2 separate regions of the Homo sapiens genome follow, and region 2 is linked to region 1. A link means that fine-mapping ties the variant in region 1 to the expression of a gene that starts in the linked region. Tissue or cell type: nasal epithelium. Region 1 holds a variant in brackets; the other region holds the start of a gene. All regions are shown on one strand. Distances are from middle to middle.

The links. PIP is the estimated chance that this variant, and not a neighbour inherited with it, causes the effect.
Region 2: it holds the start of KCNK2, and the variant in region 1 is the best candidate, but not a certain one, in a credible set for the expression of KCNK2 in nasal epithelium (TOPMed, PIP 0.57).

What each region holds. Positions count from the first base shown.
Region 1 is chr1:214,780,861-214,786,241 of GRCh38, reverse strand. No RefSeq gene overlaps it. Among named protein-coding and RNA genes, the nearest start is that of CENPF, 180 kb to the right of the region's middle. The variant C/T (reference allele first, on the strand shown) is at 2,075.
Region 2 is chr1:215,079,831-215,085,211 of GRCh38, reverse strand. KCNK2 (potassium two pore domain channel subfamily K member 2) reads right to left here and starts at 2,475. Exons shown (of 7, transcript NM_001017425.3): 1 at 1,781-2,475. The coding sequence starts at 1,826. LOC124904511 (a long non-coding RNA gene) reads left to right here and starts at 2,888. Exons shown (of 2, transcript XR_007066878.1): 1 at 2,888-3,122; 2 at 3,253-5,030. RefSeq lists an enhancer at 1,595-2,117.

The DNA.
Region 1 (5,381 bases):
ACTATTACAAGGACAGAAAACCAAACACCGCATGCTCTCACTCATAGGTGGGAATTGAACGAGAACACTTGGACACAGGTAGGAGAACATCACCCACTGGGGCCTGTTGTGGGGTGGGAGGATGGAGAATGGATAACATTAGGAGAAATGCCTAATGTAAATGACGAGTTAATGGGTGCAGCAAACCAACACGGCACATGTATACATATGTAACAAACTTGCACGTTGTGCACATGCACCCTAGAACTTAAAGTATAATTTAAAAAAAAAGAATAACTCAGCCTGATAGATGGCTTCAGACATGTGCATGGGAATGTTAGATGTAGTATTGTTTACAATATTAAAAAATTGGAAAACCACTAAAACATTCAGTAATAAAAGATAAGAAAATTCTGGTACATTTTTACATGATGAATACTGAACATCCATTAAACATTATGTTGTAGAAAAGTATTTTTAGCACAAAAAAATTACAATATACTGATAAATGAAAAAAAGCTGGTCATTCAAATACTATTTTTTAAAATATAAGAACAGGGTGGACTGACTAAAAGTCACCACACTTTGGATCTGGTTCCCTTCTTTATGCCACTTTTTCCAAGGTGGGCCATGACCTCTTTCAAGCAGATAGTGAAGCCATCCTCACAGGGTTAACTAGAATTCTGGACAGAAATCTAGTTATTAAGCATTAATCAGGCTGTGCTTTGACCCCCTTCTTTGGAACTGTAAGTCAGTTAGCACTAGATCCTGACCATTTGCATCCCAACTGTTGCTATAGATAGGATCTCTGACAGTAGAATCATAAGGCTTTTCTTTAAAGATCACCGGAGATATTTTTTGATGCAAATAATTGAGTAGAATCATTTAATTTGACATTAAATGCAATTACTTAAACAGCTAACGTGACATTTACTGCCCTGTAGTTTGAGTTTAATTTTTTTTTAATTTAAGTTCTAGGGTACATGTGTACAACGTGCAGGTTTGTTACATAGGTATACATGTGCCATGTTGGTTTGCTGCACCCATCAACTCATCACTTACATTAAGTATTTCTCCTAATGCTATCCCTCCCCCAGGCCCTCACCCCCCCAACAGGCCCCAGTGCATGATGTTCCCTGTCCTGTGTCCAAGTGTTCTGATTGTTCAATTCCCATGTATGAGTGAGAACATGTGGTGTTTGGTTTTCTGTCCTTGTAATAGTTTGCTGAGAATGATGGTTTCCAGCTTCATCCATGTCCCTGCAAAGGACATGAACTCATCCGTTTTTATGGCTGCACAGTATTCCATGGTGTATATGTGCCACATTTCCAGTCTATCAGTGATGGACATTTGGATTGGTTCCAAGTCTTTGCTATTGTGAATAGTGCCGCAATAAACATATGTGTGTATGTGTCTTTATAGTAGCATGATTCATAATCCTTTGGGTATATATCCAGTAATGGGATCACTGGGTCCAATGGCATTTCTGGTTCCAGATCCTTGTGGAATCACCACACTGTCTTCCACAATGGTTGAACTAATTTACACTCCCACTAACAGTGTAAAAGTGTTCCTATTTCTCCACATCCTCTCCAGCATCTGTTGTTTCCTGACTTTTTCAGTGATCGCCATTCTAACTGGCATGACATGGTATCTCATTGTGGACTTGATTTGCATTTCTCTGATGACCAGTGATGATGAGCATTTTTTCATGTGTCTGTTGGCTGCATAAATGTCTTCTTTTGAGAAGTGTCTGTTTATATCCTTTGCCCACTTTTTGATAGGGTTGTATTTTTCTTGTAAATCTGTTTAAGTTCTTTGTAGATTCTGGATATTTGTCCTTTGTCGCATGGGCAGAGTGCAAAAATTTTCTCCCATTCTGTAGGTTGCCTGTTCACTCTGATGGTAGTTTCTTTTGCTGTGCAGAAGCTCTTTGGTTTAATCTTTGGTTTAGATCCCATTTGTCTATTTTGGCCTTTGTTGCCATTGCTTTTGGTGTTTTACTCATGAAGTCCTTGCCCATGCCTATGTCCTGAATGGTATTGCCCAGGTTTTTTTCTAGGGTTTCTATGGTTTTAGGTCTAACATTTAAGTC[C/T]TTAATCCATCTTGAATCAATTTTTGTATAAACTGTAAGGAAGGGATCCAGTTTCAGCTTTCTACATATGGCTAGCCAGCTTTCCCAACACCATTTATAAAATAGGGAATCCTTTCCCCCTGCTTGTTTTTGTCAGGTTTGTGAAAGATCAGATAGTTACAGATGTGTGGTGTTATTTCTGAGGCCTCTGTTCTGTTCCATTGGTCTATATATCTGTTTTGGTACCAGATGCATGCTGTTTTGGTTACTGTAGCCTTGTAGCATAGTTTGAAGTCAGGTAGCATGATGCCTCCAGCTTTGTTCATTTTGCTTGGATTGTCTTGGCAATGTGGGCTCTTTTTTGGTTCCATATGAACTTTAAAATAGTTTTTTCCAGTTCTGTGAAGAAAGTCATTGGTAGCTTGTTAGGAATGGCATTGAATCTATGAATTACCTTGGGCAGTATGGCCCCTTGCACGATATTGATTCTTCCTATCCATGAGCATGGAATGTTCTTCCCTTTGTTTGTATCCTCTTTTATTTCGTTGAGCAGTGGTTTGTAGTTCTCCTTGAAGAGGTCCTTCACAGCTGTTGTAAGTTGTATTTCTAGGTATTTTATTCTCTTTGTAGCAATTGCAAATGGGAGTTCACTCAGGATTTGGCTCTCTGTTTGTCTGTTACTGGTGTATAGGAACACTTGTGATTTTTGCACATTGATTTTGTATCCTGACACTTTGCTGAAGTTATCAGCTTAAGGAGATTTTGGGCTCAGACAATGGGGTTTTCTAAATATACAATCATGTTATCTGCAAACAGGGACAATTTGACTTCCTCTTTTCCTAATTGAATACCCTTTATTTCTTTCTCTTGCCTGATTGCCCTGGCCAAAACTTCCAACACTATGTTGAACAGGAGTGGTGAGACAGGGCATCCTTGTCTTGTACCAGTTTTCAAAGGGAATGCTTCCAGTTTTTGCCAATTCAGTATGATATTGGCTGTGGGTTTGTCATAAATAGCTCTTATTATTTTGAGATACATTCCATCAATACCTAGTTTATTGAGAGTTTTTAGATGAAGGGCTGTTGAATTTTGTCAAAGGCCTTTTCTGCATCTATTGAGACAATCATGTGGTTTTTGTCTTTGGTTCTGTTTATATGATGGATTACGTTTATTGATTTGTGTATATTGAACCAGCCTTGCTTGCATCACAGGGATGAAGCCGAGTTGATCATGGTGGATAAGCTTTTTGATGTGCTGCTGGATTTAGTTTGCCAGTATTTTATTGAGGATTTTTGCATCAGTGTTCATCAGGGATATTGGTCTAAAATTGTCTCTTTTTGTTGTGTCTCTGCCAGGCTTTGGTATCAGGACAATGCTGGCCTCATAAAATGAGTTAGGGAGAATTCCCTCTATTTCTTTTGATTGGAATAGTTTCAGAAGGAATGATACCATCTCCTCTTTGTACCGCTGGTAGAATTTGGCTGTGAATCCGTCTGGTCCTGGACTTTTTTTGGTTGGTAGGCTATTAATTATTGCTTCAATTTCAGAGCCTGTTACTGGTCTATTCAGAGATTCAACTTCTTCCTGGTTTAGTCTTGGGAGGGTGTATGCGTCCATGAATTTATCCATTTCATCTAGATTTTCTAGTTTATTTGCATAGAGATGTTTATAGTATTCTATGATGGTAGTTTGTATTTCTGTGGGATAAGTGGTGATATCCCCTATATCATTTTTTATTGCATCTATTTGATTCTTCTCTCTTTTCTTCTTTATTAATCTTGCTAGCAGTCTATCAATTTTGTTGATCTTTTCAAAAAACCAGCTCCTGGATTCATTGATTTTTTTGAAGGGTTTTTTGTGTCTCTATCTCTCCTTCAGTTCTGCTCTGATCTTAGTTATTTCTTGCCTTCTGCTAGCTTTTGAATGTGTTTGCTCTTGCTTCTCTAGTTCTTTTAATTGTGATGTTAGGGTGTCGATTTTAGATCTTTCCTGCTTTCTCTTGTGGGCATTTAGTGCTATAAATTTCCCTCTACACACTGCTTTAAATGTGTCCCAGAGATTCTGGTATGTTGTGTCTTTGTTCTCATTGGTTTCAAAGACCATCTTTATTTCTGCCTTCATTTCATTATTTGCCCAGTAGTCACTCAGGAGCAGGTTGTTCAGTTTCCATGTAGTTGTGCGATTTTGAGTTAGTTTCTTAATCCTGTGTTCTAATTTGATTCCACTGTGGTCTGAGAGACAGTTTGTTGTGATTTCTGTTCTTTTATATTTGCTGAGGAGTGCTTAACTTCCAACTATATGGTCAATTTTAGAATAAGTGCGATGTGGTGCTGAGAAGAATGTATATTCTGTTGATTTGGGGTGGAGAGTTCTGTAGATGTCTATTAGGTCTGCTTGGTACAGAGCTGAGTTCAAGTCCTGGTTATCACTGGAGATATTTTTCGGATCCCAAATTCCAGTGCAACAGCTGGCACAACCAGTTTGAAGACCCCCACAGAAGTACAGAATTAGCATGAAAAATCAGTTTCTTCATCAACCAGTCACATGACTTCGCAATGCACTCTTCAACCAATCAACCATCTCTACTCTTCGACCCACTCCAAAACCCGTAGAAACTCCAGCCTCAAATTCTACAGGAAGCTGGATTTGAGGTTCTCTCCCATGTCATCCTTTGGCAGCCATATGATTAAACCTCTTTCTCTGCTGCAACCCAGTGTCTCGGCATATTGACTTGTTGTGAGCATTCAGCGACTGAGCTATTACGGTTGCAATAGGAAAAATTTCAGCTTCAGGGTGCCCCAGACTAGAGATCATCTTCTCCATTTTGGTGTTTTTCTTTGGGTTCAAGAGTCTGCCATCTGCCAGACCTACCTCCACAGCCACCAGGCCCAGCAAGAACCCACCCCTGGAAAATGTTATGCAGTACTTAGACCCTATATTTGTCCCCCAAGGAGAGAGATGGAAATGAGTCACTGTCCAGTTTCTGGTTCAGAGGGCCACTCAACCCCGACTGCATGGCCACTTCATCCCCTCTAGACTAGACACCTTTGTGGGAAAAGGGCTTGCATCCTAGCCAGAAACGCCCACCCCTCCCCACATCTGTAACTGAAGAAGTTACAGATGAAGTAATACCAATAAGGTGTGTGATTTTTTTATTAAAAAAGAACTCTTCCAAACTAGCAATAATACAAATATTAATTTTGATCACCCATGTGAGGGAGAAGACTGAATTATTCTTTTCATTCTCTTTCTAGTCTCCGTAGAAAATGCTATTATAAAATAATTGCCTTTCAAAGAGGTCACCAATGAGTATTCAATCCAAAATGTA
Region 2 (5,381 bases), 300 kb before region 1:
GTATATAATATAGATTATAAAATGATAATCTTATCTAAAACACACTTTCAGGTAAGTATATAAGAAATCTCCATGGAATTGCACTCAAATACCCTACAGGCATCTGAAATTACTTCAGTATGAGAAGCTAATAAAAAATGCCAGTTTTCACATGGCTACCTACCCTGCCCTCTTACCTAACACTGTGAGTTAATTGTAGGCTACCATAGTTTTAATTCATAAAATACATCTGTAATTCCCCATCAAAAAGAAGCTTTGCAAACAAAGATATTTAAAACACTAGACCTAAGTAGTGTTGTAAAATGATGGCAGAAGGCAGGATCCTCAGTCAGCAAAGCTCCAAATGGATCTGATTTGGAAGAGATGAAATTAGAGCTGTGATGAGGTTTCTGTACCCATGGCTCCAAGTGGAGATTCCATGTACATATAGCTTATTACAGCAATTTCCTAAGGTTCAACCTACTACACAGAGGAATGCACATGTTTCTCTCCTGATACATTCACCTGTTCCAAATAAAGCCACAAGCTAGTAGATACCTTTAAAATATTTATAAAGACACCTTCACTCAAAATTAGCACTGGGCATGTGTTTAATGCTATAATTAAAAAAAACTGTTAAAATGGAAGTGCTGATAATAGCTAAAATCACTATAATCTGCAGACTCCCCACAACCTCCTAGCTGCTTAGTGAGTCTGAGTGAAAAACAAAAGTCATAATTTAAAATTTAGCCATCTTTGGAACAAAAACAACAAAAAAATCACATAGAAGTTCCACAATTATCTCTCTAAATGAAGATTTCCAAGTCTCTCCTCCTCAGATCTCTGTGCTCTCCTATTTGTGATTTTTCACATCAGTGGTTTACACTCTGCAGAACCAGAAAGCACTAAGACTGTTTACCTTGATGGCACCAAATCCCAATCTGAAATTCCATTAAGACATTGCCACATGGCCATTATATGCTTTTTGGGGAAAGGGGCAGGTATTTTTAAGAGTGTGTGTGTGTGTGTGTGTGTGTGTGTGTGTGTGTGCATTAACCTAATACATTTCCAGAAGGAGTTTAATTCTTTTAAGCTGTTGCCTTATTTTTTAATTAGCAGAAATATATGTAATGTACATTTGGCAGACAGAATGGACAGAAACTGATGAAATACCAAAATAATATTTTTAAAAAATAAAAGCAGACTTTTATCTTTAATACAGGGAACCTCTTGGTTTCCACCTCCACGCCATTTGATGTATGATCAGGGAGAGAAGCTGCCCCTTCCACACACACTCAGCACCGTCACTACCCACTCCCCTCCCCCAGCTCATCACAGTCTTCTGTTAATCCCGGTCTTCTGTTCTCACCCAGATATGTCTTCGCTCCAGCGGCGACTGACCACTGAATAGCAGCGGAAGCAAGCTTTTTTCAGCACCACTGCCTGTCCCACCAGGCAATGGGCAACAAGTGTGACCGGGGTCACCATGAGTCCTGCCTGCCGGCTACTCCCAAGGGCTGACCCTCCTTCTCCATGGGAAACTCCCCCAAGGTGTTCCAAACCCATACCTCAGGCAGATGCAAAAACCCCGGGCACCGGCGGGAGAGGGGGGAGAAGCGGCGTGGAGAGGATCTGGCAAGGGTTTGCCTCCAAATCCAGATTATGACCCAACACTTTGGACGCGAAGCGAAGATGGGAAACGGCCGCTTGCTGAGAGGGGGCATTTGCAGTCCTCCCAGAAAAGGCTGGGGCAGGAGAGCGTGCGGCCAGAGGGGTGGGGGTACCGGAGGGGGGGTCTCACCTCCTGCTCTATAGCCGGGTCTCTCCCGCGAGGCGCTGGGAAGCATGAGGCATGCAGCATTCAAAATGTTTTTTGAAAAAGACGGACTTGAAGCTTTTTTTTACAAACACGCCATTGTACTCACTTCTTATTCAGAGACGGGCTGCGCGCTCCGAGCTGCACGGGCAGGCATTTTCCCCGGCTTTGTTTTACAAGGTGGGGAGAGCGGGGCTGGACGCGGGAGGGGGCGGGGGGGGGAGCGTGAGAAGAAACGAAATCGCGGGAAGGAGGGGACACCGGCGGGCTGGGCAGAGGGCGAGGCGGAGGCCAAGTTGGGCTTGGGCGCCGCCGCCCCCGCGCGCGCCTGCTGCCGGGCCCGGGTCACCCGGAGAGCGCGGGCGACCCGGGTCCCGCGCCTGCCCGCCGCCGCCGCCGCCGCCGCCGCCGCCACGCGCTCAGCCCCGGGCTGCTCGCTGGCCCGGCCCCGGCACGGCGCGGCGCGGGGGCGGTGGGTGCAGCCCCAGCTGCCGTGCGCCCCGGCGTCTTTGTGCGCGAGCCTCGTTCAGCCCCTCTTCGCATGTCTTTGTGTGTCTCCCCCCGCAATGCCCTCCGTGCCCCGCGGGGGGTGTGTGGCACGGTCCGGGCGCCCGCAGCTCTGCAGCCCTCCGCTGCTCTCCCTTCCCGGCTCGCTCCTGTCGCCCCTTGCCGGCTCGTTTCCCTCCTTTCGGAACTCCCTCCTCTTCGCCTCCTCCCCCTCCTGTCTCACCGCCAGGGCTTGCTTCCCCGCACCTCCTCCTAGCCCTACCCTTGCCTGCGTCGCCCCTGCAAGATGCTCCCTTCTAAAGATCCTCTCTTCCCTCTTCCTGGGGGCACAACCCCTTGGCTCACCTGCTGCCTCCTCCCCTCTCAGCCCCTTCCACTAACCCCCATCCCCACCCCGCAAAATCCTCACTCTCGCTGTCTGGCATCCACATCACACTGCGCTGCATCCTATCTCCTTCCCGACCAGCGTTCGGGGTGTGGGACCGGGTGTGGGACCAAGCTCTGGGACGCGAGTCCTTGGACCCCTGCACTAGGGCGTCCTCCTCGCCCTCGTGGCCCCCCAGACCTGTACAGGGAAGTGTCCCCGTTGGCGCCTTGAGAGCCCTGGAGTAGGGGAGGTAATGAAGACCCTGGCTTCTTCCAGTCTACACCTTCGGGAAGGGTTAAGGAGTCACCAGCTCGCCCCACTTCACCTCCGGCGGTGCTGGACATGAGCTGGGCGCTATAATCTGCAGAACGTCCGGGACCGAAAAGGATGGGGAACGCACCTGGAGCCAGGGCGAAGACATCTAGAGATGCAAAGGGAATGGAAGAAAACCCGGTTAGGTTCTCTCAGAGCAAGACCCCTTTGCTGGAAACATAGGTTTCTAAGCGCGGTGGGTGGGAGCAGCAGGGTGGGAGAACTCAGACTCCAGCCTGAACTTAGCGCTCCCCGACCTCCTCCCCATCAGGATCCGTATTTGGCAGGTACCAGACCCCGCCCAAACTCCAAGACCCCGGCGTAGGGACAGCCAAACTCGCAGCGACAGGGGGACGGAACGGAACCCACCAAGGAGGGGAAGAAAGCCAGGAGATCAGACGTTGCTGTCGTCGTAATAGGCGAATTCTCTAACAACACACGTGATGTAGTGGAACTTCAATCCGTTTCTAAACTCTCTTCCTTCCCACTTTCTCAGCGGGAATCCCCTGATGACCTCCACCCTCCCATCCCAACTGCTGTTTGCTAGAGTTTTTCTTCCATAACTGCTGCTCGGCCAGATTGGAGTATTTTCCCAGTTACAAGAACTTCTTAGTGAAAAATATAGACGTAATTGTAGGGGAAAAAAAGCTTGTAAATCTTTTGCAAAACTGTTACCGTCAATGATAAAAATGCAATTTTTTCTAGATTCCAGAATACATTCAGCACCTCTTTCCCCTATTAAAAAAAAATCTTCCTAATATCCTTCCTGCTGGAATTCAAACACATTTTTCTCAACTTATGTGCTCAAAAGTAATACAATCAGATGTCCTTTCTAAAATGTGAATCTGATCCTCTCACAATCCTTACAAAGTCTCTAGGTCACCTATAATGTGCTTCCTGATCTGGCTAAATCTTTTTCATTCTAAGTCTTCCTGGGCAGTTACCTTCCCTCAGTGCACACACCACACACACACCAACTTTACATGACTAAGGTATTTTATCAGTAAGGTTCTCTAGAGAAATGGAACATATGTACACACACACACACACACACACACACACACATTTGCGTGTACGTGTGTGGGGTAACAGATTTATTTTAAGGAATTGGCTCAGGATGATGGGGGCTGGAAGGTCCCTCTGAAATCTACAGGGCAGCTCTGGCAGGCTGGAAACTCAAGCAAGAGTCGATGCTTCAGTCTTAAGGCAGAATTTCTCCTTTTCCAGGAAATCTAATTTTTGGCTCACAATTGCTTGTGATATAGGCCCACCAGCATTACCTAGAGCAATCTCGTTTTGAAGTCTTACTGTAGATGCTGAACACATTTATGAAACACCTTCACAGCAACACTTAGATTTTAGATTCGTGTTTGATTAAATAACTGAACACTGTAGCCTAGTCAAGTTGACACATAAAACTAACCATCACAGGTGTTACCCTGCAAATCTCCATGCTGCCCAGAAATTTCCCTGGAATCCTGGCCAGTCAGGTGTTTTACTATTTGCTTCCCAGGTCAACTCGTCTTTCATCTATCTTTATACTTGTCACATGATGTTTTGCTTCTTTAAACTAGATTGTATGCTCAGTGAGGGCATAAACCATATCTCTCTGTTCACCATAATATCTGCAGTAACTAGCATCTGCTGCTAAATACGTGTTTGATAAACATCTGAGTGAAATCGTTATTCCTACTAAATAGCTGACATTTTCTTATATTCACCTGGTCTCCCTCCAGGTATTTGGAACCAGGGTATACCCTACATACATGAGAAATGAGATGAATTCACTATATTCTGAATCATTTTCTACCCTGTCTCATAGGCTCTTTGTTCTCCAGATGAAATTTCCTCAAATTTTTTTGAATATTATTTTCATTTTTCCCATTTTGTTCGCAATTCGATTATTCTTTTTCATTCCCCCCTCCGAGTTTTCTGCAAATTTAACCGCATCTTGCCCAGCACTAGTCCTCTGTCAAACTGGCTAATGCTTACTAGACTGGGAGATTAATAGTTTGAATATGCCTGTTTAATAAATTAAATATGTTTTGATATATGCTTGCATAGCGCTTCTGTTTTTCCAGACTCATGGAACTTAGGTCTCATCATGAATCCCAAATGCTGGATTGCCATCTTCCCTGCTTTTTGCTATCAATTCATACATAGCAGTTGTCCTCCACATTCCCCTTTGTATTATTTTCATTATTAGGCCCCACATTCATGTAGGGTGCTTGGGGGTTGGGGGAGAAGTGATGTAACTTACAGAGATGTTAAGATAAAAAGATAAAATTTCAGACTGTAACATTAACAGGAATCATCCCAACAAGCCAAATGCTCAGCCTCACAAATAATTTGAAAGAATCAAGAAACCACCCAGTCCTCCCACAGTCTGCCCCCGTTAAA